Linked DNA regions of Homo sapiens. The protein of the gene in region 1 purifies or fractionates together with the protein of each later gene. This does not show direct contact. Each region holds a gene or a part of one and is shown on either strand. Other genes may lie near its edges.

What was found. The genes of interacting proteins can lie anywhere in the genome.
Region 2: the proteins of SMCO1 (region 1) and MAPK8IP3 purify together in Homo sapiens (affinity purification with mass spectrometry; 2 studies listed by BioGRID and IntAct, with this or other methods). This does not show direct contact.

What each region holds. Positions count from the first base shown.
Region 1 is NC_000003.12:196,512,547-196,516,546, reverse strand, and holds the start of SMCO1 (single-pass membrane and coiled-coil domain-containing protein 1), read left to right. Parts: upstream 1-1,200; 5' UTR 1,201-1,337; coding exon 1,338-1,387; exon of another isoform or gene 1,388-1,417; coding exon of another isoform or gene 1,418-1,443; intron 1,444-4,000.
Region 2 is NC_000016.10:1,761,695-1,765,194, reverse strand, and holds part of MAPK8IP3 (C-Jun-amino-terminal kinase-interacting protein 3), read right to left. Parts: intron 2,845-3,500; coding exon 2,714-2,844; intron 2,521-2,713; coding exon 2,464-2,520; intron 2,360-2,463; coding exon 2,189-2,359; intron 1,539-2,188; coding exon 1,412-1,538; intron 1,081-1,411; coding exon 985-1,080; intron 895-984; coding exon 736-894; intron 183-735; coding exon 17-182; intron 1-16.

The DNA.
Region 1 (4,000 bases):
GTGACATGGCTCTTACCAGTTTAAATGGTGTGGTTATTTTCTTTTTCTTATATGAATCTTTTGCTCAAAACATACCTACTCATTGTTTCCTGAACACATCATTTACTTTGCCACCTCTGTGATTTTGCTCACACAATTTCTCCAGTTCGTAACACCCTTAACACTCTTCTCTGATAATCAAAGACCTTGACCTTTAAGGCCAAGCCAAGTACCACCTTCAGGGTGAATATCTCCCCAAGGACCCAAGATTTCAGTGACTTAGTCTCTCACCTTCTATTATTTTTATGGTCTCTATCTACTTAGCACACATCCCATATACATTTTCTATTTAAGGATATATTCTTTCTTCCCAACTAGATTTTAAATCTCATGAAAACAGCAGTCCTATTTTATTTCCACATTTATATTCAATTCCTAATCTAATATATATATAATTATATAAAATTATATATATATTTTATATACGATATAAATTATATATTATATATAATTATATGTATAATTTTATATATAATTATATATATATATATATATATATATATATATATATATATATATCCTATCCTCTTGCCCGGGCTGGAGTGCAGTGGCATGATCATAGCTCACTGCAGCTTCGAACTCCTGGGCTCAAGCAGTCCTCCCACTTCAGCCTCTTGAGTAGCTGGGACTACAGGCATGCACCACCACTCCTGGCTAATTTTTGTATTTTTTGTGGAGACAGTCTCGCTCTGTGGCCCAGGCTGGTCTTGAATTCCTGGGCTCAAGCAATCCTCCCACCTTGGCTTCCCCAAGTGCTGGGATTACAGGAGTGAGCCACCATACCCAGCCATAACAAGTATTTAGTAGTTTCTAATGATAGTTAGATTTTTTGCTTTGATATCATCATCATAAAAGATCTGGGGCACTCTTCAAACCTAATTTAGGTTGTAATTGAATAATGAAGCAGTTAAAATATGACAGTAATATTTCCATCAAACTTAATCCTATACGTTACGTTAATGTATCTGTATATACATTTACCATAATGTACACAGTCATTAATTATACATGGTTGTTGCTGTATGTTAATGTACTATGGTTCAGTTTTCAAAGGCAAATGTTATAGTGCATTCCAGGACACCTGTGTCCACGAGATAAGTTCTTTGAAACTATATTTGGATCTGCAGGCTATTAAAAGCTTCTTGTACTGAGTGACCTTTCAGGCAGAATGTAGACTGAGCGCTCCTGCTACTGCTGCCTGTTGCTGAGAGGAAGACCGCAGAAAATTCTGGATTCAAACATTTATTGCTTTTTTTGTTTTGCTTTGTTTTTGTTTTCTTTCCTTTTGCCTTCAGAAGATGAACAATGAAACCACAACCCTGATATCCTTGAAGGAGGCAATGAAAAGGTTGCTGAGGGCTATAGGGAGGGAGCAAGCATGGGTCTGCTATTCTGGGAAGATGGGTAAGAGAAGAATGAAGAATAGAAATAAAGAACTGCAGACATGCTCATTAGAATTCTGTCTCTGTGGCCGGTGCGGTGGCTCACACCTGTAATCCCAGCACACTGGGAGGCCGAGGTGGGCGGATCACAGGGTCAAGAGATTGAGACCAGCCTGGCGAACATGGTGAAACCCTGCCTCTACTAAAAATACAAAAATTACCCAGGCATGGTGGCGGGCGCCTGTAGTCCCAGCTACTTGGGAGGCTGAGGCAGGAGAATCACTTGAACCCGGGAGGTGGAGGTTGCAGTGAGCCGAGATCGTGCCACTGCACTCCAGCCTGGCAACAGAGCAAGACTCCGTCCAAAAAAAGAATTCCGTCTCTATTACAGTGGTTTAAGTCTTCCAGGCCCAAACCTATGTAAATTAACAATAAAGAAAAGTCTGCTCCCAGGTGCTGTAACTCCATTGAATGTATGCATATGCTAAATCCTAGATTTACAAAAATAAGTAAAATGTGGTTTCTGCCCTCAAGGAGCTCACAGCCTGTAGGAAAGAGAAAAGTTTGAAAAACATTTACAATTTAATGTGACTGACCTTACAATGGTGATGTTCCTAAAGGTCTATGCGAACATGAAGGGAGGATCAACCAATTTTGCCTTTGACACTAGAAAAAGGAACTCTTCATATAGGGTCATTTAAGCTGGATCTTAAAGTGCAAGTAGGAGCTTATGAGGGAGAAAAATATGGGAAGGCATTCTAGGCTGAGGAAACAGTGCATATAAGCCATATGTAAGCTTGGAACCACATAATGTATTCAAGCAGCAACTAGATGTCTCGTGTAATTGGTAACTAGGATGGGTGAGGGGACTGGTGGAAGACAGGAGCAAAGGGTGAAGGCCCTTGACTTTCCTGCTGAGGAGATCCAGTTTGCCTCTGAGTATATCACTGGGCAAGCCAGGATGACATAAACCATTTGTAATCAGTTGAGTCACAGAATCGGAATTGTGTTTTAGAAGAATGTGTCTGGAGGATGGATGGGAAATGGAAAACGGGGGTCCAGTTAGGCTACGGTAATCTTGGGTCCTAGTGAAAGATGATGAGAAACTCATTTGATGGAGATGGAGAGGCAGGAATGGGTTAGAGAGACATAAATCAGGGGAAGAAAAAAGTTGAGAATTATTCTGAGATTTCTAGTTCAAGCAATTGATTGGATGGTGAGGTCATTAACGAAACTAGGGAACTGTACTAAAACAAAACAAAACAGCCTGCGCTGAGATTTGCATGTTGGTTGAGATTTATCTGGAACGGCCTCGGACTGTCCTTTGGTGAGAGGATTCCAAAGAACTGCTGCAACTGTAAATTTTTATACTGATTGACAAGCTAGACTTCTTCCCTAAGTTTCAAACTACAGATGACCTATAAGCAATATAGTCTTAAAGGTCTAAAAGTTAACACAAAATAGTATGCCAAATGGCTTTTTTTTTTTTTTTTTTTTTGAGACAGAGTCTCACTCTGTCACCAGGCTGGAGTGCAGTGGCGCGATTTCAGCTCACTGCAACCTCCGCCTCCCAGGTTCAAGTGATTCTCCTGCCTCAGCCTCCTGAGTAACTGGGACTACAGGTGTGCATCACCACACCCGGCTAATTTTTGTATTTTTAGTAAAGAAGGGGTTTTACCATGTTGGCCAGGATGGTCTCGATCTCTTGACCTCATGATCCACCTGCCTTGGCCTCCCAAATGGCTGGGATTACAGGCGTGAGCCACTGCACCCGGCCAACTTTCTTTTTTTTTTTTTGACACAGGGTCTTGCTGTGTTGCTCAAGCTGAGTGCAGTGGCATGATCACAGCTCACTGCAGCTTTGAACTCCTGGGCTGAAGCAATTCTCATACCTCAGCTTCCCCAGTAGCTGGGACCACAAGTGTGCACACCACCACACTAGGCTAATTTTTTATTTTTTGTAGAGATGAGGTCTCACTATGTTGCCCAAGCTGGTCTCAAACTCCTGGACTCAAGTGATCCACCCACCTTGGCCTCCCAAACTGCTGTGATTACAGTTGTGAGCCACTGCACCTAGCTCAAATCACATGGTTTTGACTTGTAGACAGAAATTACAGGCATATCAGGTCACACAGGCTTCTATTCCTACAAAATGAACATTTTATACTGAGTCTTATCTATGTGTAAAGCAGTGACAACATTTCTTCATAGTAATTTCTGAAGATGGGGGAGGTATTAGTAGGTTAAGCTTAGGAGAGTTGAGTTTGACATCTCCATCTTTGTGGAGATGCACAAAACATATTGAAAATACATCTCTAGGCCGGGTGCGGTGGCTCACGCCTGTAATCCCAGAACTTTGGGAGGCCGAGGTGGGCGGATCGCCTGAGGTCAGGAGTTCGAGACCAGCCTGGCCAACATGGTGAAACCCCATCTCTACTAAAAATACAAAAATTAGCCGGATGTGGTGGCGCCTGTAATCCCAGCTACTCGGGAGACTGAGGCAGGAGAATCACTTGAACCTGGGAGACAGAGGTTGCAGTGAGCCAGGATCGTGCCACTGTACTCCAGCCTGGCGACAG
Region 2 (3,500 bases), on another chromosome or scaffold:
CACTCCAGCTGCTCACCGGGGATGCTGGAGATGCACAGCACGTGCGCGTTGCAGACGGTGAACTGGTCCACCACCGTGCCCGGCTGGTTGGCGTCGATGATCACCACCTTGCTGGTGGTCAGGGTGCTGGTCAGGATCCACACCCGGCTGGAGGTGGCGTCCATTTCAGGGAGCTCCTTGGCCTGTTTCAGGGCACGGGATCAAGGTCAGAGCCCGAGCTTGAGGCTACCCGGTGGCAGCACAGGGCCATGGGGCTCCCAGAATCTGTCAGGATCCAGCCTTGACTACAGCTTGAGGGGACATGGCTGTCCTCCCCCAGGACCAGAACAATGCGGACTCAGGACTGCACTCTAAAGCACTCACAGACACGGTTTCGCCTCCACAGAAGAGGCCCCTGAGCTCCAAGAGGCCCAAGCTGGGCATAAAACTAAGCCTCCCACCACTGGGAGGCAAGCTCTGCCGCTCCTGGGCTCCTCTGTGCCTGCTGCCTGCCTGACCCCTGCAGCCCAGTGCAGGCCCACTCCAGGCCACCTGGGGGGTGAAAACTGAAAACCCAGAAGGCGGCTCAGTCCTGGTGAGGGAAGACACTGCTTCCCGCAGTCTAGGAGCCCCTGCGCTGCCCTGCTTCCGGGTGCTGTCCCCAGCTGTCCTGTGTCTCACTCCCAGCATGCTCTGCAGCTGAGCTGTCCTGAGACTAAGCCAGGGAGGGTGCCCGGTGGCCTCGGCCATGCTCACCTTCTTCTTCTCGGGAGACGTGTGGGCGCTCTTGGGCTCGCCGTCTCCTTCGCGGTCGCAGGTCAGGGGATCGCGGCCTGGCGCTGGCTTGACTCCATTCCCAGCGTCGTCCTCATTGGGCCTCCACCCGCTCAGGTTGACGCCCGCGGCACACCACAGCTGCAAGGGCAGGGCCGAGGTCGGGTGTCACCGGCACTCCCCAGCCTCCCGCTCGCCCAGCCAGCCTGAGCGGGGTCCTCGCGGGCTCACCTTCATGGTGGGGTCCTTCTCCACCAGAGGGCGGCAGTACACCGGCACCGGCACGTTCTTCATCCGCGTGTCCTCCTGGCCCCCGTTGGGACTCAGCTGCAGGGAGCAGGGAGGCGCCGTGGGCACGAACCCTGGCTCCTACCCATCCCTCCAGAAATCTGAGACAGGTAGGGCTGCCAGCTTCTGGCGGCACAGCCACTTCAAGACTGGAGGCAGGTGGGGGCGTGGGAGCCGCGGGGCTCCTTCTCCGACCCTCCAGACCCCTGCCCAGGAGGCTCACTAGGAACCTGCCAGGCCCCGCCCCACCCGCCGTCCTCTCCCACCCCCTAGCACTGCCCCGCCCTCTCCCCGCCCCACAGCGCCCCGCCCCTTACCCCCGCCCCGCCTCTGCGGGGCCCCGCCCGGTCCCCGCAGCGCCCGCCCGCACCTGCTTGTACTTGGCGGGCAGGCTCCAGCCGCAGGCCTGCAGACGGCCGTCGTCGTTACGCACGTGCTCACGCACCTGGCGGTACTGCTCGCGCTTCTGCTCTCGACGGGCGGAGGACGTGCAGTCGCTGAGTGGAAGAATGATGGGTGATGTCTCTGTCCAGGGTGAGCGGCCCCCACAGTGCCCCAGGCTTGTCCTGGGGGAGGTCACGGCAGGGAGGCCCGCCTGGGCCCATCCTCGCCTTTTCCCGGCCACCGGGTGCCCAGCTGGGAAGGGTGGCTTTCCCGGCACTGGGTGCCCAGCTGGGAAGGGTGGCTTTCCTGGCACCGGCTATGCCCCTGGGCTTGGAGGCCACAGCTGGCCCCTGCTCGACCCAGAGGCTGCTCTGCTGCCACAGTCACTGAGGGTTCCACAGACCGGGACCTGGAGTGCCGCCGGGGCACAGGCATGACCAGCGACTCCCTGCTGGACAGACGCCTGAAACGGCTCCTTGCTGCAGAGGCCACCGTGGAGCCCAGCACAGCCCCCTGACTGTTGGTGGGCACAGCCTCTGCCAAGGGACATCCTGAACCAAATACCGTGGAGCCAAAGCAGCCCAGCTCCCCGCTGCAGGGAGGGGCAGGCAGTGTGCAGGGAGAGGTCACGGCCCCTGGCATGTGGCCAGCAAGGTGGAGGCTGCCCTCAAAGTCCCGCTTCAGGGCCTGGAGGGGAGGAGCCTCAGGACAGGGCCTCCCCAACCCCATTGCAGGCCACAAGTGGGGGCTGCGGGACACTCACTCGTCAGGGAAGAATTCCAGGGGCCGGCTGCCTGCCGAGATCGGGCACATGGCATGGTTGCGGCGCTGGCTGAAGCCGGCAGTGGTGGGTGACTTGTAGTGGATGTTCACCGAGGGATAGGGGCGCTTGGCCGGAGGGGGGCTGGAGGAAGAGCTGAAGAGGCGGCTGAAGCTGCCAGAGGCACAGGGAGGTGAGGGGTGGGCAGAGGACCAGGGAACCTCCCTGCCCCTTCCCCTGCAGCTGCTGCCCACATCCCCCAGGGGCCCCCAGCTTACAACTGCCAGATGGTCGACTTCTTCTTCTCCTGGACGGATGGGTGCTCTCGGGACGCTCTGCAGGGGAGGGCACAGGGAGCAACCTGCTAGTGCCCTCACGCCTCCCTTACCTGCGACTCTCTGGCTCCCGCCAGGAAGCACCCAGCGCACTTCAGTCCCCCCAGAAGACAGGGAGGTGCAGAGGAGGGAGCCGCAGTCCTGCCGTCAGGGATGATCCCGCAGCCCCTCCTGGGGTGGCCGCAACTCCCACCTGATCATCTCAGTCCACCGCACAGCCTCCTGCAGCTCCATCAGCCGCTCCTTGTACTGGTTCCGCTCCATGAGCACACGGGCCATCTCCACCCGCGTGAAGCGGCGGCGCTGGGCCATGGGGATTTTGTCCTGCGGAGGGAGGGGCACAGAGGCTCAGCCAGCCCTCGGAGGCCGGGTGACACCTGCTTCCTCCTGGGGTGCCTACACGTATAGGTGGATCTCAGTGCCAATTTCCTTCAGATCCTCAGGCAAGAAGCGGTGTGGAGGGGTGTCGGCAAGCGGGGAGGGGAACCATACAAAAGGCATGCACCAGGACTTGGGTGCTGACAGGGGACCCGGCATCCTGCCAGGGCTGTGGTCCTGCCCAAGGGCCTGATTCTGACTCCATGTGGTCTCAGGAGTGGGGTGGCAGATGATGCCGCTGGGGTCAGGTGTCACCCAGGAGGGGTGGGAGAGCTGTCAGCCCAGAACAGCCGGCGAGTCCCCAGGAGCCCGCCTGGGCCCCCTGCCCGTGCCCACCCCAGCCCTGCATGTGAATTGTGGGATATACTGATTCTGTACAGAGACAGAAGCGCCGGTGAGTCCCCGGGAGGCACCCCGCATCCCCATGCCCCGAGTGTGAATAGTAGGATATACTGTGTGTGAATGGTGAATGGTGAATGGTGGCCGCCCAGCGTGTGAATGTGTGGGAATGATGGCTGCCCCACGTGTGAATGCGTATGAACAGTGGTCACCCGGCGTGTGAATGTGTGGGAACAGTGGCCGCCCCGCCTGGGAATGGTGAA